Linked DNA regions of Homo sapiens: regions 1 and 3 are each linked to region 2. The links come from fine-mapping of genetic effects on gene expression. A gene starts in region 2. Each other region holds a variant in brackets. All regions are shown on one strand. Distances are between the middles of the regions. Region 1 has its middle 30 kb from the start of MIR3164. Region 2 holds the start of TPCN2 (two pore segment channel 2). Region 3 has its middle 14 kb from the start of MRGPRF-AS1.

Evidence for each region. PIP is the estimated chance that this variant, and not a neighbour inherited with it, causes the effect. A credible set is the group of variants that fine-mapping cannot tell apart.
Region 1: its variant is the best candidate, but not a certain one, in a credible set for the expression of TPCN2 in prefrontal cortex (BrainSeq, PIP 0.64).
Region 3: its variant is the best candidate, but not a certain one, in a credible set for the expression of TPCN2 in whole blood (TOPMed, PIP 0.90).

Annotation. Positions count from the first base shown.
Region 1 is chr11:69,108,519-69,117,084 of GRCh38, reverse strand. No RefSeq gene overlaps it. Among named protein-coding and RNA genes, the nearest start is that of MIR3164, 30 kb to the right of the region's middle. The variant T/C (reference allele first, on the strand shown) is at 4,436.
Region 2 is chr11:69,046,231-69,052,905 of GRCh38, reverse strand. TPCN2 (two pore segment channel 2) reads right to left here and starts at 3,974. Exons shown (of 25, transcript NM_139075.4): 1 at 3,800-3,974. The coding sequence starts at 3,908. RefSeq lists an enhancer at 996-1,570 and silencers at 3,547-3,646, 3,727-3,896, 4,017-4,236.
Region 3 is chr11:68,994,097-69,002,662 of GRCh38, reverse strand. No RefSeq gene overlaps it. Among named protein-coding and RNA genes, the nearest start is that of MRGPRF-AS1, 14 kb to the left of the region's middle. RefSeq lists an enhancer at 1-253 and a silencer at 7,831-7,997. The variant G/T (reference allele first, on the strand shown) is at 4,035.

The DNA.
Region 1 (8,566 bases), 63 kb before region 2:
GGGGACAGGGGGGCAGACAGAACACCCTGGGAAGCCCCCAGGTGGCTTCCATGTGACGAGAATTGGTAAACTGAGGGCTGTGTTGGGGTTTGCCCCGTGGGCCGGGTGCCCTGGGCAGCCCAGGCCTGGCAATAACTCACCCTGAGCTACCTCAGTTTACCTGGCTGTGAAATGGACTGGGAAGACCAGGTCAGGGGTCCCAGGCAGGGTCGGGGGTCAGGGGTGGGGTTCGCTGTGGCAGACAGGTGAGGGCCTGCCCCACCTAAAGCTTCTGCTACTCAGCAACCTCCAGTCACTGCTGGAGGGGGCCGGCCAAGCAACACCAGGTCCTCTGGAAATTGAGATGAATTCATGAAACCTCCTGTAGCGGCCTGCATGGTGGCTTCGAAAGACGTGTCCACGTCCTAACCAAATGTGGCCCTATTTGGAAACAGGCATCTGCAGATGCAATTAAGGACCTTGAGGTGAGATCATCCTGGAGAACCCAAAATCCAATGACCAGCCTCCTCCTGAAGGCTCAGAGGAGAGACACAGGGAGAAGAGATGGGGGCCACATGAAAACAAGGCGGAGACTGGAGCGGGGCAGCCACAAGCCACAGGGCACCTGGAGGCACCAGGGCAGACAGAGGCCGGGGTCCCTCCCTGGAGCAGTCGGAGGGAGCGCAGCCCTGCCTACATCTAGATATCGGGCTTCGGCCCCAGCACTGGGAGAGAAGGCATTTCTGTGGTTTCCAGCCCCCACCAGTTTGTGATCTTTTGTTACGGCAGCCGCAAGAAATCTCCCAGCTGACACGGCCGGCTCGTTTCTTTCACTAGTACTGAAGGCGCCAGAACATATGTCACGGCCACCCTTGTCCTGGGGGTCCCGGCCAGCAAGGCCTGGACTCCAGATCACAGCCCTGCACTGGAAGTCAACGAGGAAACAGCCCCCAACATGTGACGTCGAGGAGGCGAAGCCCACCTCCCAGGCCGCAGGCTGCTCTCTGGAGAGTGGACGGTGACACGCCTCCTTCAAGGACCCTGGCTATGACGGCCTTTGTAAACTGCAAAGTGCCTTCCAGGTTACACGGTGGGGTTATGAATGGGACTGAGTTCCTATCTCCCGAGAGTGAGAGTGCGAGTTCCTGACCCATGCCCCACCCCAGGAACGGCCAGGGCACAGAGGCCAGTGCCGGGAGCCGGACGCTGAAGGTCCCGCAGTGGCCTGCAGCACCCCTGGGGCTGCACCCGCCTGCTGGGAGAGGAGCGGCCCCGCCCTCCCCCAGGGGAGGCGGCCGTCACATGGCAGAGGTGCCAAGCTGGTGAAAGGCCGCCCTCCCTGTCCTGGCACCGCCGTCCACTGCAAATGCCTGGCCAGAGTCGGTGCCAGCAGCCTTCAGGGGCTGTCATGTGCCCAGGCTGCTGGCAGCTGCTGGTCAAGGGGCCTTGCCCTCCCTCTCTCTGGACACACCTTTGATTCGGAGGAATGTGTGTGTGTGCTTTTTATTCCTTGAAGGGGAAAAAGCTCTCTCTCGGCAGAATTCTTCCCGGGACCCCGGCTGCTGACCGCTGGTGAGGGGTCCTGGGAAGGTCAGGCCTCCGAAGGGACCTCCGCCCCTGCCTTCCCACCACCCTCCCTGACACCGCGAACACACTCCGTGCCTTCTGTTGCTTGGGAAGGATTAGAGGGTCGTGGCTTTAAATCCCACCTCTGAGATTATAAATCCTGGAATCCAACCCTGCCTCCGAGCTGGTGACCCTGGGCAAGTCCCTCCATCCCCCTGACCCACAGCTTGTTCATCCACATCATAGGGATATTCCAGAGGGCTCGACAGAGGACTAAGCACAGTGAAACCGTGCTCCTTCTCAGCTCCACAAGGGCACTCTGAGAGTTTTCACCTTCCGGGGGTTATTAATGATGACGCCAGGGCGACAGGTGTCGCCCGGGACTTTGGGGCAGACTGGGATGTTTGGCAGGCTCTGATTAAATAAGATAACGTACATCAATAAGATAACATCCTTGGCTCAGGCCTCCTAGCAAGTGCTCCGCAAACACTAGTGATCGCCACTCCCAACTTCTCCCAATCCAGGCTACGTGCCCGTGGTCCTGTCACCAGCTGCTCCAAGCTTCAGTCTCTGTAGGACAGAGCTGATCACTTGGAGCTGAGCCTTCCTAGGCCACGCTGGTCGCAGAGCAACTGCCCTGCAAGGGAGTTTCATTTATTCATAATAAATCCTATGTTAAGGCTGAGAGTGAGAAAAGCCTTTTTGTTTCTGGCATTTTCTCTCCTAAGCAAAGCCTGGTGCAGACAGAAGGAAATCATGATCCGTCCATCTCAGCACCAGGAGTTCTCGGTGGAGGGCCCATTGCCAGGTAGAGGGACTTCTGGAAGAGCAGCCATAGGTTCCCAAGGAGCTGGAGGTCATGCGCCAAAGGTGCAGGTTTTGCTGGGTTCACAAAGGGGCCGAGGGGCAGGGGCCCAGTGACCACCTGGCCTCAGGCCCCAGAAGGACCCCTGTAGGCAGCTCGGCATCACCAAGGGCAGCTCCCAAGAGATCATCAGGAGCCTAGAGGCCACCCCCATGTGAACAATGGGGCCCTGGATCCCTACGAAAGAGGGTGGCAGAGCTGGACATGAAGCCGGCACCTGGCACAGGTCCTTCTCTTTCCTGGGTGAGGCCTGGGGCTCTCCCATTCTGGAAGGCATGAGCATAAAAGCACCTCCCTGTGGCACCCCCAGCCCCTACGCCCGGGGGCCAGCTTGCCTTTTTGCTCCACACACCAGGGTCATCCTCACGCAGTCAGGGAAAACATCCCTACCCCTCGGTCCCCACAATATTCCAAACCCATCACTGAGCACTTCCGAGCGAGAGCTGGGCCACAGCCTCCCTGACCTTCCAGAAGGGCTGTCGCACAGCCTGTTTGCTAACATGAAAAAACCGGGCTCAGAAAGGTTAGGTAACTTGTTCAGATCACACAGCTGCGAGGGCTGGGCTCGAGCCCAGGTCCATCTGGCTCCACCGCCTATGTTCTGGGCTGAGCTATAAAACTGCACACCCCTCACCCACCTCCCCACATACTGGTCCGTCTATCCCTCGGCCACAGTGCTCAGAGCTGCCTCTGGCCCCAGAATGCATGGAGGTGGAAGGAGACCCAGGAGGAAATGAGACTCATGGAAAGGGAATAACGTGATGAATGCAGCACTAGAGCCCAGAGACAGGGACAGGGGAGGCCTCCTGAAGAGGGGCGTCGGGGTGGGGCAGGTTGGCCAGGTGGGGACGAGGGGACAGCAGAGGGAACAGCAGTGGACACGCACAGAGAGAGACAGCAGAGGGAACAGCAGTGGACACGCACAGAGAGAGACAGCGGTGCCATGTCCAGGCAGCTGCAGGACGTTCTCGAGGCTGCCCTGAGTGAAGGTGTGGGGAAAGGAGGGGCCGGGCTTCGCTGGGCATTCTAGGCTCAAACCAGGGGTTGGGGCTTTTCTCTTAGATTGAATCCTGAAGAGCCATAGACAGTTCTAAGCCCAGGGTGAGTGACAACACTGACCATTTGGAAGTGCCCACCAGAGGCCACGTGTCCCAGAATGAGAGGAGTTAGAACAGGGAGTTGCCGGGAGGGGAGATGGCACTGAGCTGAGGGCGGGGAGGGAGAACAGGCGGCCTAAGGAGGTCTGAGACGGGACTGGGCGGCAACATGAACCAGCTGGGGGTGAGACCGGGAGCCCACACACTGAAGGCACATTGGTTTTTAATGCCTTGCAATTGCCTTTGATTCTGCAAGAGAACGACATTTCTGGAAGCTCTGCTAGAAAATCTGATTAGTGCAAAACGAGAATCTATTCATGAGTGTGGCTGCTCCCCAACTCCCACCCCATCGACCTGCCCAACCCTCCTGTCCAAGAAGCCGCCTGAGGATTCCCAACCCGACCAAAAGCTGCACTTTGGCACGAACCTTTTGTAGGTAGAGAACGTCAAAAATGCAAGTCTTACAACGAGGACAGGACAGTGTCCTGGCCAGGCCTGGAGGCCGAAAGGTGGAGAAGAGGACACCCAGACCCCATGGTTGTCCAGGACGTAGAGAGAGCCCCTGTTTTATTGCTGTTTTTGCTGGGGGGGTGGGGAGGAGTCTCGCTCTGTTGCCCAGGCTGGAGTGCAGTGCCGCGATCTCGGCTCACTGCAACCTCCGCCTCCCGAGTTCAAGCGATTCTTCTGCCTCAGCCTCCTGAGTAGCTGGGACTATAGGCGCCCATAACACCTGGCTAATTTTTTGTATTTTTAGTAGAGATAGGGTTTCACCATATTAGCCAGGATGGTCTCGATCTCCGGACCTCGTGATCCGCCCAACTCAGCCTTCCAAAGTGCTGGGATTACAGGCATGAGCCACCGCGCTCAGCCTGATTGCTATTTTATTCTGGGGGAAACACACCAAAGTAGGAATGTCAGAATCAAATCA[T/C]TGGTGCCTTTTTAGGGCAGACGCCCACAGTCTTGTGAAGACACCATGGTGAAGGGTTCACAAGGGGATTGAACTCCCAGAAAGGATAATGAAGTGTTCACACCAGAGCCTGAGGGAGCCAGGGAGGCCTCCACATGGGCCCCAGCCCTGGCATCAGGAGAATTCGCCCCACCCGCTGGGGAAGGCGGCGGCCCACCCAGCCATGGCCCAATGGCCAGGCGGAATCAGCACGCTGGGCTGAGCTATCTGGGGCCAGAATTCGGAATGCCACACGTAGCAAACAGTTAATGATCAACTGGTCACCCCTATCCAAAAGACCTAAAACTAATAGGGCTATAAAATGTGTAAAATATCTGCCCCCGACCAGACCAGACAAGACAGCTTAGGGCAGTGAACATTTCTCTGTGTTCCCTTTCAATAACCTTGTGCTGGGAGGCAGGCCATGGGGCCACTCCTGTGGGAAAATTTTCCCGAAGCAAGCCATTTGGTCAGAAAGGCTTCCCATGCTCTCCTCAGCACCCCGTCCCTGGCCACGACCCCTCTCCCCTTGCAGCCAGAGCTGAAGGGACACAGATTCTTTCCCAAGTTGCACATTTTGGGAAGAAGGCTGGAGTGTTTTAAATGAACCATGTAAATGCCCCTTGAAGGGGAAAGGAGGGCGCCAGGGGAGTGGGAGTGGACCTCCCATCCATGCACAGGCCTTCGCTCTCCTGTCCTGACACAGAGAGTGACTTCTGCTAGAGCTGCTGACTTCTGCCAATTTATATGCTAATTCCAGAAATGATTCTTCCTACATTAAATAAAAGCTGAGGAATGTTCCAAAGGTCTGAACAGACTGTACCATTAACAGACAGAGGAGAGCTGCGCAGGCCCTGCCCACAGGAGTTTTGAGCGTGTGAACTTGTGTGCAGCTCACACTCTTGCCTAATTTTAGGCGCACGTGCTCCTTCGGCTGACTTGCCAAAATAAAACTGCTTCGGCATCCAAAGCCTCCCCATGCCCATCTTGACCTTGTGGTCCCCTTTTGGAGTAACCTTCTGAGAAAGCAGAGACTGCAAAACAGAATTGGAAGGGGGCCACATTGAGTTCACACCCCAGAGTGATCACCTGACCCTGAGTCTGTCAGCATCATCAGAGTATGGCCCCCCGACCCAGTGCCTGAGCCCCCCGCCTCCTCCACAGCCTCTTCATTTTCCCCACCCACCCCTACAGACACCAGTCTTCCCACTTCAACAAGCCCTTCCTTCTTCAGACGCTTTGCACATTCTGTTCCTCCCACTGGGACTGCGCTTCTCTGCTCCCGACCAGGTCACTCTGGCTCATCCAATTCATCTCAGCTCACTTGCCAGAGAAGCCCACTCTGAGCACCAGGTGAGGGGGGCCTGGTTATACACTCTTAGTGAGTGCTGTACCTTCCTTCCTGGTGGTCCTCACAATTCTAGTAGATTTGCATAATCATTTCTTCAGAGCTTCCCAGCCTCCTGAGAGCAGGAACTAGGATCCATCCTGTATCCCCAGTACCAACAAGAATGTTTGTCATAGACTACAAAGAGGGAAGTAGGGAGTTTGGATAGATATTTGGGGAATGTTTGGATGGATGGATGGATGGATGGATGGATGGATGGATGGATGGATGGATGGATGGATGGATGTATGGATGGATGGATGGATGGATGGATGGATGGATGGATGGATGGATGGACAGACGGATGGATGGATGGATGGATGGATGGATGGACAGATGTTTGGATGGATGGATGGATGAATGGATGGATGAATAGATGGGTGTTTGGATGGTTGGATGGATGGGTGTTTGAATGGTTGGATGGATGGATGTTTGGATGGATGGATAAATGTTTAGATGGATGGATGGATGGATGGATGGATGGATGGATGGATGGATGTTTGGATGAATGTTTGGATGGACGGGTGGATGTTTGGATGGATGAATGGATGGATGGATCGATGTTTGGATGAATGAATGGATGGATGAATAGATGGATGTTTAGATGGATGGATGGATGTTTGGATGAATAGATGGATGTTTGGATGGATGGATGGATGAATGGATGGATGTTTGGATGGATGGATGGATGGATGTTTGGATGGATGGATGGACGGACGGGCAGACGGACGGATGGATGGATGGATGGATGTTTAGATGGACAGATGGATGGATGGATGGATGGATGAATGGATGGATATTTAGATGGATGGATGGATGGATGGATGGATGGATGGATGGTGGGTGGAGAAAACTGGTCATACCCCAGAAAGACAACTGTCTTGGTAGAATAATTTGTATTTCCTGCCTTTCTCTCCCTAGAACTCTACAAAGGTCTCAGTCAGGGACCCCACTGGCTGTGTCCCCCAGTCGTAGCCTCAGAGACAGAGAACCCCACCAGGCCAACCTCTTGGCCCCATGTTTTCCAGCACTGTGCACTGCTCACACAGTTCTCTCCTAGAACACTTGCACTTCCAGAAGCCCTCTCTCCCAAGGATCCCAACCTCTTCCTCCAAGTAGATGCTAGGGCACTGCATCTGCCAACTTCTCTCTCTTCCATGCCAGGACACACTGAACTCAGCCTCACACAGGCCTGAGGTCTGTGCCAGAGTTGGCCACTTCCTAGCTGATGACCCTGAAGCCACAGACTTTCCTCTCTGAGCCTCGGTTTCCTCATCTGTATAAAGGGCCTCATAAGGGAAAGTAGGAAGGATTAAATTTGATAATGTGTGCCAGATGCCAGTGCTGTGACTGATACAGGAGATGATTAACAAAGTAACATGAGGATTGATGTATTGATTGATTTATCAATTGATTGATTTGCAACTCTGAAGGGAGCAAGTGTTCTTCAAGGCAGCCAGGTGGGAGATGCCTAAAGGCAGAGCATGGCAAACGGTGGTGCTGCCCTGTCTTGATCTTGGTCAACACCTCAGCTATCTCCCACCTCAGAGTGAGCAAGAAAATGGCCACATCTCCCAGCTCTTGATCTAAAGAGTTTGCAGTGCCTGATTAAAGTGATCAGTTGTCTCCCTTGCAGACTCAAAAATGCCTGGAGCCACCCCTGCAGATCCTCACTTCTCACTTCTCCACTGCACAGCTCAAAGGCCATGGACATCCCAGCCATCAGGACTCAGGGCGAGCCTTAACAGAGTACATTGGATCTCATCCTTCCTCCACTCAAACCGCCAGGAGCTCCTCTGCTCCACACAAGGCCCCTTCAGGGAACCTCGAGGAGCTCAGCATGCCCCACCTCAGGGCCTTGGCATGTGCTGCTCTGTCCTGAGGTCTCCACTGGGATCCCTGCCTCCCTTTCCTTGGATGTGTGTTCCTTCATCAGCCAGGCCTGCCCTGGCCCAGGCTAAATCTCCACTGGAGCTCACCACTGCCTGATGCACCAGACACTTGGTCTGCTTCTCCTGGCCACTCTGACTAGAAGAGCCCACCAAGGCAGGCACTTGGGTCTGTCTTGTTCACAGCCATATCCCCAGCCCCTGGCACCCAGCAGCATTCAATAAATGGTAATTGAATGGATAAATGAATGAATGAGGAGGTACCTGTTCATTCATTTAATGCTAATACTAATACTGATTAACAATAATAATAGCAGGAGCCGGCTCTTCACAGATGCTGGGATTCAAAGGTAAACCAGACATAGTTCGCATTTTCAATAGTCAACAAATGTGTAATTAGCCAATAAATAAGTTAATAAGTGATCAATAAATGCATGATCATAGACTGTGGTGGGGCTCCCAAAGGGGCAGGGGCAGGTGCTTGGATGGGCACCAAGGAGCTCCTCCCCCAGGGAGTGGGTCTGAGACCTGAAAGGCGTGTGAGAATGAGAAAAGCGTGTCGGCAGAACAAATGTGTACAAGTCTCCTGCAGCTGCTGTAACAAACCATCCCAAACTGGGTGGCTCAGAACAACACAGACTTATTTTCTCAGTTCTGGGGACCCGAAGCCCAAGACCCAGGTGTCAGCAAGGCCGCCCTCCCTCTGAAAGTGCTAGAGGAGGGTCCTTCCTGACACTTCCAGCTCCTGGGGGCTCCAGGTGTTCCTTGACTGTGGCCACATCACTCCAGTCTCTGCCTCTGTCTTCGTGCATCCTCCTCCTCCTCTCCGTGTCTTCA
Region 2 (6,675 bases):
GGGAGAGGGTGAAGCAGCTGCTTTTTCAGTTGAGACTCGGCTTTCACACCTGGCCCCTTGGGGCCCACAGCTGCACCAAGACAATGTGGTGACATGGGAGGCAGCAGCAGAGGCCTCAGGAGGTGCTGGTCCCCAGGCAGAGCTCCAGGCCATGACCCGCCCACGCCACTGGCCATCCTTAGGGAGGCAGCTGCCCCTGTCCTCGGGGCTCCTGCTTGGGGGCATGAGGTATAGGCAGCTGGGCCCTGGACGGATTAGAGGTGTGAGGGGCCCCAGACAGAGGCAGGAGACCGGACCCCACCCTCACTCTGCCCGGCCCTGCTGCACTGCCGGGAGCAAGAGCCTTCCCTCCCTGTGGCTTTGGTGCCCACATGCACAGCCACGAGACCCACCCTGAGGACACCCGAATGTCTCCCCAGGGAAGCTCTGAAAGTGGCTACTGTTTATGTCCCCTGAGCACATCCTGGGATCGCTATGAACAGAAGCCACACTGTTTTGTTCCCTGCTGTATCTGCAGAGCCCAGAAGTCAAGCACACAGGACTCAAAGCTGATATATCCCATGAATAAATGAACAGCCCTGAGGGGAGCCTGGGGGGCCGGTGATCTGAGAGGCCCCACCTTACCAGATTCCCTGGGAGAAGACAAAATCTCTACCAGGAGAGATCTAGTGATACAAGCTTCTTAGACAAGAGACAAGCGGCCGAGTTCCGGGCCTCACTCCAGCCCCAGGACCACGGAAAGTACTCACATCCACCCAGGCCAGCCATCCCAGGCCAACAGTGGTGGGCACCCCTGGAACCATCCAGCACTCGTGGTTCCCTTTCGCCTGGCTTTTTGGTTGCTGGTTTGTAAAATTCTGGGTCTGGCCATCCTCCGTTTCACCCTGCAACAGCCCAAGGATCTCGTTCCAAACACTCAGAAGCACATCGCAGCTTCCCCTGGGCCCCCACTATTCCAGGCCCACACTCCACCCTGGTCTGGCACTGCAGGTTCCCACATTTGCCGGCCCGCCTCTCTCCTGCCTTTCAACCCTCAGTGCCACTCATTCCGAACTGGGCTCTGCCAAGGCCATGCTCTCCAAAGCCTCCAACCCTTTACTCAGGCTGCTGCTTCTGCCAGGAGCACCATCCCCCAATTTGTGAGTCCAGGGACTCCCTTGGGACAGCTCGCCCCGCCCTGAGCTCATCACCCTGGGGGACAATCACCTTTCCACACACCATCACCCACTGGGGCTGAAGGGTTCTGCAAGGCACAGAGGACAGCAGGGGCTGAGATGCTGCATCCGGCACACCAGGCCTCGACACGGCTTCCTAATCCAAGCCTCTGCCCCGCAACATCCAGGTCTGAGCTCCCGCTCCCCTGTTGCTCCAGGCTCCAGGCTGCACAACCTGTGTAGGGTCCTGACCATCATCCTCTGTGACCCTGGGCAAGTCCCTTAACCTCTAGGTGCTCCAGGTCCTCATGGACCCCCACCCAATAGGAGCTAAGTACAGACTGAATGACTTACTATAGCCAGAGTACTTTGCTAAGTGAGCCCTTCATAAGCATTCAGTTACTCTGAAAGCCTCTACAGCATCGCAATCCCTTGTCCTCTGACTTGTTTGATAACCAGTAAAAGTGTGATTTTTCTGACCCAGCAACAAGAGAAAACAACTGTTCTCAACCTTTGACCCCGGCCCCATCAGGTGGGGCCAAGTCAAAACGACCCAACAGCAGGGTCCACTGGGGTCCTTGGGGCACCCACAGCAGCAGCCCTCACCACAACCCGTTGGCAAGAGACCAACCACAGGACTTGCAAACCAGAGCACAGGGCCTTCATTTCAAAGCCTGGCACAGGCCTCAGCACAGAGACTGAATGAGCCTTTCGGAGTCTCCATGGCTCCATAGTCTGCCAGTCCTTGCTGGGGACCCTGGCCAAGGGGATTCAGAACACAGAGCGTCCTGTCCACGTTCTCAGAAGCCCTGGCTGAGGCCACAGCATAGGGACAAAGAGCGCTCCCCGAGAGCCTCCTCTTGTCAGCCACACTGCCCAGCAGAGCGGGTCTCACCTGCCAGGGAGGACCTGCAATGATCACAGAGCTTACCCAGGACGGCCACTGGCCCCCACACCAGCCCGCCGGGCCCTGTGCTGAGGACAAACTCTGGATTCTCTCTGAATCCTCACAATGCCCGCCAGGCAGTCCTTAGTATTATCTCCCTTTTACTGAGATTCGGAAAGGTGAAGCATGGCCAGGCACAGTGGCTCACGCCTGTAATCCCACCACTTTGGGAGGCCGAGGCAGGCAGATCACCCGAGGTCAGGAGTTTGAGACCACCCTGGCCAACACAGTGAAACCCCATCTCTACTAAAAATACAAAAATTAGCCAAGTGTGGTGGCGGGCGCCTGCAGTCCCAGCTACTTGGGAGGCTGAGGCGGGAGAATCGCTTCAACCCAGCAGAGGTAGAGGCTGCAGTGAGCCGAGATCACGCCACTGCACTCCAGCCTGGGTGACAGAGTGATACTCCATCTCAAAAAAGAAACAGAAAGGTTAAGCAACCTGCCAAGGTCACACAGCCAGTGCAGCCCCAGAAAGGCGCCCAGACCCCTAGACACAAAGTCTGTGTTCCCTGAACGGTGCCATATGCTGGGCGTCTCATCAAGGGGCCTGCCAGAGCTGCTCCCTGCAGATCTCCTTCCTGACTGGTCCCAGGAAGCACCTGAAGAACTTCCTGGAGGCAGCTTCTGAGGTGAGCAGACAGGGTGGCCACCTTGGCCTCTGGTTTTTCATCTCTCGTCAGGGTCCCCTCCTTGGCCCCTCATTACTCCATGGATGGGCACATGCCACAGACCAGTGGGTGGGCACCAGGATTCCAACCCAGTTCCTTCCAGACAGAGGAGGAAAGAAGGAAAGAGAGGCCAGAGAGGGAAGGAGCCAGGTGTGAATTCTCAGAGTGGTTCGAGCAGCAGCCGCACCAGAACAGAGGGCTGTGACCTTGGGCAGGTCTCAGGGCCTCTCTGGGCCTCAGTTTCCTCATCTGTGAAGTGAAGCTAAGGTCCTTCCACCTCTTAATCCAGAATCTCATTCCCCTGGTGTCAGCGAGGGGCGGACGCACCCCACCCTCGGGGGGCGGATTCAGCAATCTTCAGACCAGGACAAAAAACGGGAAGGGCAGGAGGGAGTGCAGAGGGGACTCTGGGGTGGCAGAGGGCAAGGAGAGGAAGCCGCCCCCGTCTAGGGGGCCCGCCCCAGCCCCACGGGAAGTGGGACGGGGAAAGGCACCCTACAAAGAAAGGACTCCTAGCTCCCAACTGGTTCGAATCCCACCTCGGCCACTTACTGGGTGTGTGACCTTGGGTAGGGTAACGCCTCTCTGTGAGCCTCTGCTTTTTCCAGAAGAAACGGGAAAAATCAAAGTGCTGCCTTCTCTGAGTCAATTAGGCGACCCTCATTACGGCGACAGTCGGGAAGTATGGGGTCTGGGCCCGCCCGGGCACACGGAGGGTGCCTGCCGCAGGTGGCCGGTTCCCTCGGGGCTGCCCAAGGCTGGGCGAGGGCCTCTTCGCCCAGCTGGTCGGGATCAGGACGCGACACGGAAGAGACCCCAGCTCTGCCCTGACCCCGGTCCGGGTCCGCAGGACGCAGCCCACTCGCCCTCAGAACACCGGCTCGCCTGGCACCCGGCGCGGCCCGGGCCCCGCTCGGACTCGAACCTGGTGGGGGCGCGCCCGGCAGAAAGCGGGGTGCTGGGACAGCGGGACCCCCACGCGCGACCCTGGTCTCCCGGGCCAGTCCCCTCCCCAGGTCCGGGCGGCTCACCAGGGCCGACTTGGATGCTGCGGTAAGTGGTCAGCCCCGCCGGCCAGTCGCCGCCACCGCCGCGGGCCCCGCCCAGCAGGGGCTCCGACTCCGCCTGGGGTTCCGCCATCCAGCAGCCCACGCGCTGGACCCGACCCTCAGAAGCTCAAGCCCCGAAGGCGCCCAGCTTCACTGCGCAGGCGCGGAGACCCCGTCCCTGGCGTTTTTGCTGACGCGCGCACGGCACTGTGGCGCAGGGGATCCCTGCAGTCCCAGCCAATGAGAACGGGGAGGGAGGGGTGGGGTTCTCCTGAGTGGGGCGGAGCTAAAGGGCCCCGCCCCTCTAGGGTGGAGCTCAGCTTCGTTCCACCCAGGGCGGGGCAGCGTTCTGGGGCTTAAGGGCCGAGGGCTGGGGAGGAAATATGTTCTCAAAGGATGTCTTTCCGGCCAGAAGCTTCAGCATCACCTGGAAACATTTTAGAAATGCAAATTCTTGGGCCCTTAAACCTACTAAATCAGCAACTCTGCGGGGAGGACCCAGGAATCTGTGTTTTAACAAGCATTCGGGGTGATTCTGATGCATGTGAGTATTGAGTACACGGGGTGACTGCAAAGGACTCCCCCCAGAATGGAACTGGAGTTTACCCTCTGATGGTGAAATTAGGAGGATTCAATATCATTAAGGGAAAAGTTTAAAAACATATGACACACTTAAAAAATATTTACAACGTATATAAAAAGTGTTTTCAACATTAATGCATAAAGACCTTGTATTCGTTTTCTATTGCTACAGTGACTAATTACCACAATCTGAAAATATAAAATAACTCCCATTCATCATCTTTCAGTCCTGCGGGGCAGGAAACCTCCTGTCTCAGGGCCTCACGAGGCTAGAGTCAAAATGTCAGCTGCCGTGGGCTCTTATCTGCAGACTCTGGGGAAAGCCCACTTCCAGGCTCATCCAGGATGTTAACAGAATTGTCTCCATGGGCCTAGGACTGAAGTCCACGTCTTCTTGCTGGATGTTGGCTGGTGTCATTCTCACTCCTAGAGGCCACTGCATTCCTTCCACGATGGCTTGAACACCTCCATCATCAGAGCCAGCAAGCAAGAGCACGCTGAAGACGCTTCGAGATGCAGCAAGACGCCTGTAATCCCAGCCCTTTGGGAGACCGAGGCAGGTGGATCACGAGGTCAGGAGATCGAGACCATCCTGGCCAACATGGTGAAGCCCCGTCTCTACTGAAATACAAAAAGTTAGCCAGACGTGGTGGCACGTGTCTATAGTCCCAGCTACTCGGAGGCTGAGGCAGGGGAATCGCTTGAACCCGGGAGGCGGAAATTGCAGTGAGCTGAGATTGCGCCACTGCACTCCAGCCTGGCAACAGAGCGAGACTCCATCTCAAAAAAAAAGGTGCTGCAAGACGCTTCCAATCTCTGTGACTTCCCCTTCTGCCATACCTCTTTACTTTTTCCCCCTCTTTTGGGGAGGGGGGAGGGTTTAAAATAAATATAAAATTTACCATCATAACTGTGAAAGGAAAATAAATCTCAGGACTCCAAAATCACTAAGCCAAAGGGAAAAGTCAAGCTGGGAACTGCGTTGGGCAAACTGCCTCGCCTTTTCTTCTTTAATAAAATAGCTACGAAGATTTAAAAAGCTACATACCTCCCTCACAATTTGCCCGCTAGGAAATTTTTCGTGGGCACCCAAGATCTTTACCCTAAAACAGTTTTGTTGAATTTTACCCTAACAATGTACATTGACAACTGATCTTCACAGGTTCCAAACAAAGGATGGAACTCTAAGTCATCCCTCTGCTCACCTGATTGCTTCCTCTGGTATAAAAGTGCAGATTCACCGAGCCAGACTAAGGCATAAGTGACTATTCCTCTACCCCCGCAACCTGTAAATTGTGTATTTCAGTGAAAGTCTGATCAAAGACTCACAAGAATGCAACCTTTGTCTCTTATCTCTCCACATATTTTTAAAATTTCTCCCTCTTTCCCAATATCCACCCTTTCCCTTTTTTTTTTTTTTTTTTTTTTTTGAGACAGAGTCTTGCTTCGTTGCCCAGGCTAGAGTGCAGTGGTGCGATCTCAGGTCACTCAGCAACCTCCGCCACAGCACCTGGCCAGTTTCCCCTTTAAATATTGAAGTCCTACAAATCATCCTTGAAGGAAGGCATAGACCTGCCTCCCAGGCACTCCTTAACCTTGGCAAAATAAACTTACTAAATAGATCGAGACCTGTCTCAGATATTTTTAGTTCACATAACTATATTGAAGTGTACAGCTCATTGATATTAAATATATTAATGATGCTATACAACTATCACCTCCAACTCCAGAACTCTTTTTATCTTGCAAAACTGAAATTCTGGACCCATTAAGCACTGACTCCTCATTCCCTCAGCCCCTGGAAACCACCATTCTCCTTTCTATCCCTAAGATTTTGGCGACTCTAGGTTCCTCATTTAAGTGGAATCCTGCAGTATTTGTTCTTTTGTGACTGGCTTATGTCATTTAGCCTAAAATCCTCAAGGTTCATCCATGTAGCATGTGTCCAAATTTCCTTCCTTTTTAAAGCTGAATAATACTCCACTGTATGTATCCATGACATTTTGCTTATCCAGTCATCCATGGATGGGCACTGGGTTGCTTCCACCTTTTGACTATTGTGAATAATGCTGCTGTGAACATGAGTGTACAAATAATTCGTCAAGACTCTGCTTTCAGGCCAGGTACAGTGGCTCATGCCTGTAATCCCAGCACTTTGGGAGACCAAGGCAGGCGGATCACCTGAGGTCAGGAGTTCGAGACCAGCTTGACCAACATGGTGAAACGCCGTCTCTACTAAAAATACAAAAATTAGCCAGGCATGGTGGCAGGCGCCT
Region 3 (8,566 bases), 51 kb after region 2:
CCCCAACCCGTGGCCCTTCTCAGGTGCAGGTGTTTGCAGTCTTGCTAGGGAACAAGCTTTCTTCCCCTCCATCCCCCCGCAAAGCCCCAGGATTCCCACACCTCCCTGGACCACCTCGCTCTCTGTGCTAATGGAGGGAGACTGCACAGATGATGAGATGAGCGGGAACTGCCCGCTCTCCTCCACTTTCCTCCTCCTTCCTTTGGTATTTAATTATTAAAGTGGGCTTGGGAGGAGCTGAGGGCTGCGGGGGAGATTTCCATCCCACAGCTCTGGGAAAAGGATCCACAGCAGGTCACAGAATGGAGAGTGGGGCATGGGACCAGAGCATCTGGGCTGCCCTGGTTGTTACAAAGCCGACTTAGTAACAACCATGTGGTATGTGGGAAGGGTGGGGTGAAGGGGCAGGGGTGGGGCATCAGGCAGGGCAGAACTCTCCACTTTTCCGTGCTGTCTGCCACCCACTATTTCTATAAAAATAAGCTGCTCTTTTAGATTATGCAAGGGATAAGCAAGGCCAAATTTGGAAAGTCAAGAGCAAGCCTCAGGGAGGCAGAGGGCTGCCACCTATAAGCCATGGGACCTCAGTCTTGCTGTGCCTCACTTTCCTTGGATAAGTCAGCTACAGCACCGACCTCCAGGAGTTGGTGCAGTGGCCTGGGGTGGCAGCCGGTGTGCCTGATTGCCCTGGTCGGGCGTTCAGGGCAGGGAGCAGAATGGCCACTGCAGAAGGGATGTGCCTGTGAGTGGTTTGTCCCCAGCACCAATCTGCTGTTTGCGGACATACTATGGGCAGTGGGTGCTGGCCAAGAGCTGCACGTAGGTTTTCTGTTGACTGTCCATGCAGGGCTACATGGCCCATACTGTCAGCCCCAGCTGTGGAAGTGGGGGCTCATGAATGGAGTTTCTCATCCAAGGTCAGTCGCGCTGGTGGACGGCCCTGGCTGGAGGCCTACATCACCATCCAGGGACTCCCCACAGTGGCCCTCCTGTTGCCCTGGAGGCTCAGGTCTCTGACCTTCCATCTCCCATCTGCAAAGCACTGGACACTGGGGTTCCGGGCAGATGCACGGAGTGGCCTGGACATGCCCATCACAGCCCTAGGATAACCCAGACGGGCCATCGAGACCTATCCACACTCTGTGGAGACCAATGGAGGAAACAGCTCAGTTTCAGGCTGTGGGCGTCTGAATCAAAGCGGGGACTGGGAACAAGGTGCTCAGCGGACACTCAGCAAACGGCCTGAACGCCGACGCCTCTCCCGTCTCTGTCTCCTGTCTTCACAAAAGGAAAACGGAATGCCTTTCTGGCATCCACCCAGCTTTCCCGGATCCCCTGCCAGTTGTCATTTTCAGATAACTTGAATTTTATATTTTATGCCAGGATTTTTAAGCCCCCAGGATCTTTTCACATCTGCACAGCTTGGCTTGGAATCCTCAGCTAGGACCATCCTTCCTCCCCAAGAACCAGGGCCTCATCTAGAAGGTAGGGCAGGGAAATGAGGGTCCACATGTGGTCCGGCCCCTCGGCATACAGGGAGATGACCAGGCCTGGGAAATGTGCCCTTCGACGGGCTGGTGACAAGGCCAAAAAGCTGGGCAAACACATTGCAGAGATCCTCCCAAACTAAAACCACTGAGAGTACAAGTGCAAAACATTCCCTTTTAAGCCAGTAGGGGCTTGACAGCTGGAGAACTTGAAAACAACAGGGCACAGTTCACAAAATCAAAACTCATGGAAAACTCTGCGCGGGTGAGTCAGAGTGCCAGCGCCAAGTTTCCTGGCATGCAAGAGGAGGCTCCCCCGCTCAGGCAGATTTTTTTAAACATCTTTTTAATAAATTGAATTGAGACCTAATTTACATAAAATAAAACTGACCCATTTAATATCCAGTTTAATTATCTTGGACAAATGTTTATGTGCCCATGTCATCAGAATGTTTCTATCCCTGCGGAAGAATCGCTTCCATCATCCCCCCAAAGTTCCCTGGCACCACTGGGCAGTAGGTCCAGCCTTGGGCACAGCCCTGCCCCGACCTGGGTGGACCATCCATCTCTGCTTTTATGCCACTGTAGATTAGTGTCCCAGGCAGACTTTTACACCATATCAGACAGGGTGCTTGGTGGCAAGTAACAGAAACCCCGGGTTAATCTAGCTTTGGCATCTGGGGTACATGGGAGGTATGTGTGTATTTAAGGGAGTTTACTAACTCACATACCCAGAAAGTTCCAGAAGTGATTCTGGCTTCAGACACAGCTGGATCCAGGGCCGCAGATGATGTTCGCTAGGCCACTTCTCTTTTCCCTGTTTTCATCCCTGTTTTGGTCTGTGTTCTATTTATTCTCAATGGAAAAACTAAATGGCAGGTAAGCGGCAGTTCTCGGTTTATCTTCTACAAATTCTGCAATCCCAGCAGAAAGAGCACGCCCTTCCTGGAGATTCTAGCTTAAGTCCTGATATCAAGTGCACTGGCCAGGCCAGGGGCACACACCCTCCCAGGAGCTGGAGGCAGGGATGGGGGACAGGGGGTGACAGTCACCCCACCTTAGCCCAGTGGACTGAAAACAGGGAAGAGGTGCGCCCAAGGTAAAACTGGCAAGCATGGCCGGGTGCAGTGGCTCATGTCTGTAATCCCAGTATTCTGGGAGGCCAAGGTGGGTGGATCACTTAAGGTCAGGAGTTCGAGACCAGACTGGCCAATATGGCAAAACCCCGTCTCTGCTAAAAATACAAAAATTAGCCAGGCGTGGTGGCAGGTGCCTGTAATCCCCGCTACTCGGGAGGCTGAGGCAGGAGAATCACTTGAACCTGAGAGACAGAGGTTGCAGTGAGCTGAGATCACACCACTGCACACCAGCCTGGGCGACAGAGTGAGACTCTGTCTCGATAAATAAATAAACAAACAAACAAACAAACTGGCAGGCAAACAGCAGGTGTTGGCCACGTTCCTCCCCTCAGTCCACCCTCTACGTGCCCACTTCTTTCCTAAGTATGATTTTTAAATGCTCCCAGCCAAAATCTGTAGCTGTATAATTTACAACATAAAATGCCTGCCTTCCCCACAGAAGAGAGATGACCAAAGTCAACCGCAGGGCCTGCCTCCCCAGCTCCGAGCCCACACCCTGGGTGTTACTCACGCCACCCTCCGTCAGAGCCACAAACACCTCCTCTTTGAAAGGTACTTGTAGTACTTTCTGGGGATGCTATCACCCATTCACCAATACCACAGACTGGTGGGAGCACTTAAACAATAGAAATTTTCTTTCTCTCAGTCCTAGAGTCCAGAAATCCAAAATCAAGGTGTGGCAGGGCTGGTTCCTCCTGAGGCCTCTCTCCTTGGCTTGCAGACGGCCACCTTCTCCCTGTGTCCTCACAGGGTGGTCCCTCTGTGCCTGTCTGTGTCCTCACCTCCTCTTATCAGGACTCCAATCACACTGGATTCAGGGACCATCCTAGTGACCTCATCTTAACTTCATTAACCCTTTAAAGACCCTTTCTCCAAATATGGTTACATTCTAAGGTACAGGGGGTTTGAGGGTTCAACATACAAATTTTGGGGAGACCCCGTTCAGGCCACAACAGTGCCCTTTGGCCAAATGATGGTCACTCTCCAGACACACAACACGCAATGGAAAGGAAAAAGGAAATAACAATAATTTTTTTTTAGAATTCCCACTTGGAAAGGAAAAGGAAAGAACAAAAACACGTGGTGGTTGTTGGTCTGTGGCATATTCTGTGCTAGGCAGGAAACCAGCAGCGCAACGGGGGTCTTGGTCAGCCCACCGATGTGGCGGCCAGAATCCAAGACAGCCCCCAGCAATGCCGTCTCACCCTCGTGTCATCCCCTCCCTGTGCACATGGGCTGTACCAAGTGGCTTGCTTCTAACCGATGGAACACAGCAAAGCTGATTAGGCTGCACAGCACTGTGACTTGCATCTTGCTAGCAGACTCTCTCCCTTGCTGGCTTCAATGAAGCCAGCTGCCGTGTTGTGAGCTGACATATTAGAGAGGCCCCTGTGGCAAGCCATTGAAG[G/T]CAGCTTTTGGCCAACAGCCAGCAATAAACAGAGGCTCCCAGCCTGGCAGCCGGCAAAGAAACGAGCCCGGTCAACAACCACATGAACTTGAAAGCAGATTCTTCCCGGAGGGAGGCTTCAGATAAGACATCTGCAGGGACCACTCCTGATGTCACATGTTCTTTAAAGGCCTGGGGAAGCAGAGCTGAGCTGCCTCCTGACACGTGTGGCCCAACACAGAAAGTGGGGCTTTACCAACCTCACGGTGTCATCCCACCAGGACCCAGCCAATTGCATATGTAAAGGCAGGTATTTGCAACAAGCCTCTTTGCCTCTTTCAGGTATTAGTTTCTCCACTGGTCAGGAATCTTTGTTGCAAATGACAAAAACCCCATTGAAACACACACACACACACACACACACACACACACAGAATGCACTGGCTCCTATTACTAAAAAGTCCAGGCAAAGATGGGCTTCAAGAACAGCTGGATCCAGGTGCCTGGATCTGGGGACTCTGTCAATCAACTAGCAATTAGTCAAGAAATGTGAGCATCTCTACATGCCAGGCAATGTTCTAGGCACAGAAGGCACAAAAAATGTGAGAACTGCCACCTTCTGGAAGCTTATGTCTTTCTGAGCAGCCTGTCTCTGTCTCTTGGGTCTTGGCCCATTCTCAGGCAGGATCTCCCCTCCTGGAGAAGAGACAGGCACCATAGGTCCAGCACAGCAAACCCAGAATAAAGAGGCCAGGGAAGTCCTCACTGTCACTGCAGAGTCAGCACCGCCCACACCCCTAAGACTGTCCCCCAAGTCAGTTGCCTAGGGTTACTTCTGTGATCAGCCTTAACGTCTGGGGTCCCCGCTTTTTCTTTCCTCATGCACATTTGTTCAAAGCAGATGCCCAGCATCTCCCATGCCTATACCTCCTTCCGCTGCAGGGCGGGACAGTGAGAATGAACACCATGCTAGCTCGGGGACCGTCCTAGAGACTCAGCCATCCGCTGCACCACCCATACGGCCCACCCGGCACCTGCTCCAGGCCAGCACCCTCACAGGGCAGGTGACACGGATAAGATGCCGGCCTCCATCCTGCCCTTGAGGGGACTGACACATCAGAACTCTTCCCTCGCCAGGCAGGAAGGGGGCCTCGGCCGGTGTGGGGGAAAGGGCTGCTCTACCATCTGCCTGTGTGGCATGTGTGTGAGCTCCCCTTCTTTCTAGGAATTGAGGGAGGCCCTGAGGGACTACAGGCATTTTGGTGAGGACTTTGAGGCTCAGAGACGTCACCTGAATGGTGTGGTTCCCCAACTCACAAGCAGTGGAACTCAGACTGGAAATAAGATCCTGGGCTCCGGGCCCAGCTCTTCTTCCTCCCCATCCCTCCGTAGGCAGCATCCTTAGTGAGTCCATTAGCCAGAGCATCTCCCCAGGCAGGCAGTTGGGGGTGGCTGTAATAGCCTTTCCCAGCCCACAAGAACCCCCATTTCCTCCATGGCTTCACCTGAACCCCCCACGGTGGGTCTCACTAATGCTGTGAGGTCTCCTCGGCCATCCCTGGTGGCATTCAGGAAGGGAGGTATCACCTTTCCTTGAAGGCCCCAGCCTCATCCTCCATTTCACTGCCGCCAAGCTGTCTCCTGTGGGGGCCGGGGGTTCATGCTCAGGTCCATTAGACTTCAGCTGGCTCTTCTGGGCCAGCACCGCGGTACCCACGTGCAGAGGCCCTGGCAGGCGGGGCCGGCACCCATCCTGCATTTATACCTCAGGCCCGGCTTCCCACTGCTCAGAGGGAACCTAGCGAAGATCATCAGGGGATCCTGGGGACAGGCTCCTCTGAGCCTGGGGGCAGCCCTGCCCAGCGGGAGAGAAGCAGGCAGCTCAGGCCAGAGCCAGAACAGGGCGAGCGGCTCAGGGGCCTGGGCCTAGGTGGCTGCTGAGGCCTCCAGCACTGGAGTGGGCAGGCACCAGCCACCTTCACCGAGGGACCACACACTGCATCCAAGACAGGTGAGAGGCCTGTTTTTTGCAATCTGGGTGAAGGCAGGAGAGCGTGGGGGACAGAAGCGATGCTTTGCACCCCGTGGGACGTTGGGGGAGTTCCTGTTCGGCCAGGGTAGCCAGGTAGCCCAGCAAGTGTCTCAGCTTCTCTGAGCCCAAATAAAGCAGAAATAATGAAACCCACCTCAAAAACATTCAAAGCGCGGATGAGCTCATGTCACCAACCCTGGGACCTGCCACCTCAGTGTGCAGCACAGCACGGAGAAGCGTCGGACAAGCTAAATTCAAGAAGACATAGTTTGTTTTTGAGAAAGCAAGCTTACGAGACAACCAGGCCCTATATTTTCATTTATGTAAAAAACATATATTGATAGGTAAATGCACAGAAAAAAAAATCTTCAAGGATTTATAGTGATACCTGGGGGTGAAGACAAGGGTAGACCTTCTTTCTTCTTTAGCATTGGAAGCTTTCAAAATAAGAATCTTTGCATCTTATCTGTGTCGTTTTTAAAGATGTTTAAGGCACAGGGAGAAAGGGACAACGTCATACTAGCCGTGGGAAAGAACACATTTTTGTGTCTTCAGTGGCATGGACAAAAGGTCAAGCAAGGCTTTTGAGGACAGGAATCCTAAAAGTTAACATGAGAGATTCTCTATTGGAAAACTTACTTGACATTGAATATGAGAGGACAGTTTCCAACCTAGTGCCTTCCCCAACACACACACACACACACACACACACACACACACACACACACTCACACTCCTCAACACATTCTAAAAATCAGGCTCCATTATTGGCCATAAGGCAGTGGAAATAGAAAATACTTTTAAAGGCCAGGCGTGGTGGCTCACGCCTGTAATCCCAGCACTTTGGGAAGCCGAGGTGGGCGGATCACCTGAGGTCAGGAGTTTGAGACCAGCCTGGCCAACATGGTGAAACTCCGTCTCTACTAAAAATATAAAAATTAGCCAGGTGGTGGCAGACGCCTGTAATCCCAGCTACTCGGGAGGCTGAGGCATGAGGATCACTTGAACCCAGGAGGCAGAGGTGGCAGTGAGCCAAGATCACGCCACTGCACTCTGGCCTGGGCAACAGGGCAAGACTCCATCTCAAAAAGGAAAAAAGAAAATACTTTAAAAATCTGAAATATTGTCTGGGCGCGGTGGCTCACACCTGTAACCCCAGCACTTTGGGAGGTGGAGGCGGGCAGATCACGAGGTCAGGAGATCGAGACCATCCTGGCTAACACGGTGAAACCCTGTCTCTACTAAAAATACAAAAAAATTAGCCAGATGTGGTGGCAGGCGCCTGTAGTCCCAGCTACTTGGGAATCTGAGGCAGGAGAATGGCGTGAACCCAGGAGGCAGAGCTTGTAGTGAGCCAAGATCAAGCCACTGCACTCCAGCCTGGGCAAGAGAGAGAGACTCCATCACAAAAAAAAAAAAAAAAAAAAAAAAAATCTGAAATATTTTAAACCCAACAACTAGGGAATCAAAGCATAACACGAACATACCCCACAGTGTGAAAGCTTACACACAGGAAACGCTTGGAAGGATCCATTCCCAAAGGAATTATCTCTGGTGGTGAGATTATGAGCAATTTTTCTTTTTCGGTATTTTGAGTATCTATCCAGCGTCTCCAATGTGCTCTACAGTAAACACAAATAACCTTGGTAATAAGAACAAGACCCCCAAATTTTAGGAGGTGCTCCGTCTCAGGGCTGTGCACGTTCACCTCCATGGGTCCTGACCCGGGGCGGTCACTGCTATTAACGCCTCTCCTCCCAGGGGTCTCCACGGTCTCTGATGTGTTCAGTGGCCAAGCAAAGCAGCGCTGAGCACACTAGAACACTGTAAACACCCCTTGACGCCGTGCGGCCGTCCCCGGCCTGAGTGATGATCACCTCCCCCCGCTGCGGTACCTCCTCGAGGCCTCGTTCAGCATCGATTAGTGCTGGGGGCAGGAGTTGGCATAAATCGGGGCTTCTCTTGGCTCTGATGGGGATCAGGAGCAAGCTTCAAGCTCAGAACCTCTAACAGAGCCCCAGAGCCACTCAGGGGAACCGTGGGACCCTGAGGAGGGTTGAGCAGTCTGGGGTCCCACTGTCCATCAGTCCATCAGTCCATCAGGCACTCAGCCAATAAACTCTGAGTGCTCATGATGTGCTGGGCACGGGGCCCCCTGGCTGGCCCTGGATACCCCCGCACCCTTCCTAGGAAGAGAAGGCTGAGAGCAGAGCCACCTGGGGCCGGGTCCCCGCTGTTCCTGCTGTGTCGGGCTCAGCTGGGAAGGCGTCTTGTGGGTGGGCTCCACTTGCCCTCTCCCAAGTCCAGGATCAACCCCTCAATGAGCAGTGTGTGGCGATGGCACTCTGCTCTCTATGGTGGGCACACCTGCGCCAAGGGGCATAGGAATTTCCTGTGGCCGCACAGACCGGGCAGCTTAAAGCACAAAGCTCCTCTCTCATGGTCGGGAGGCCAGAAGCCCAGAATTAGGGTCGGCAGGGCCATGCGCCCCCTGAGGCTCTAGGGAGCCCCTCCTTGCTTT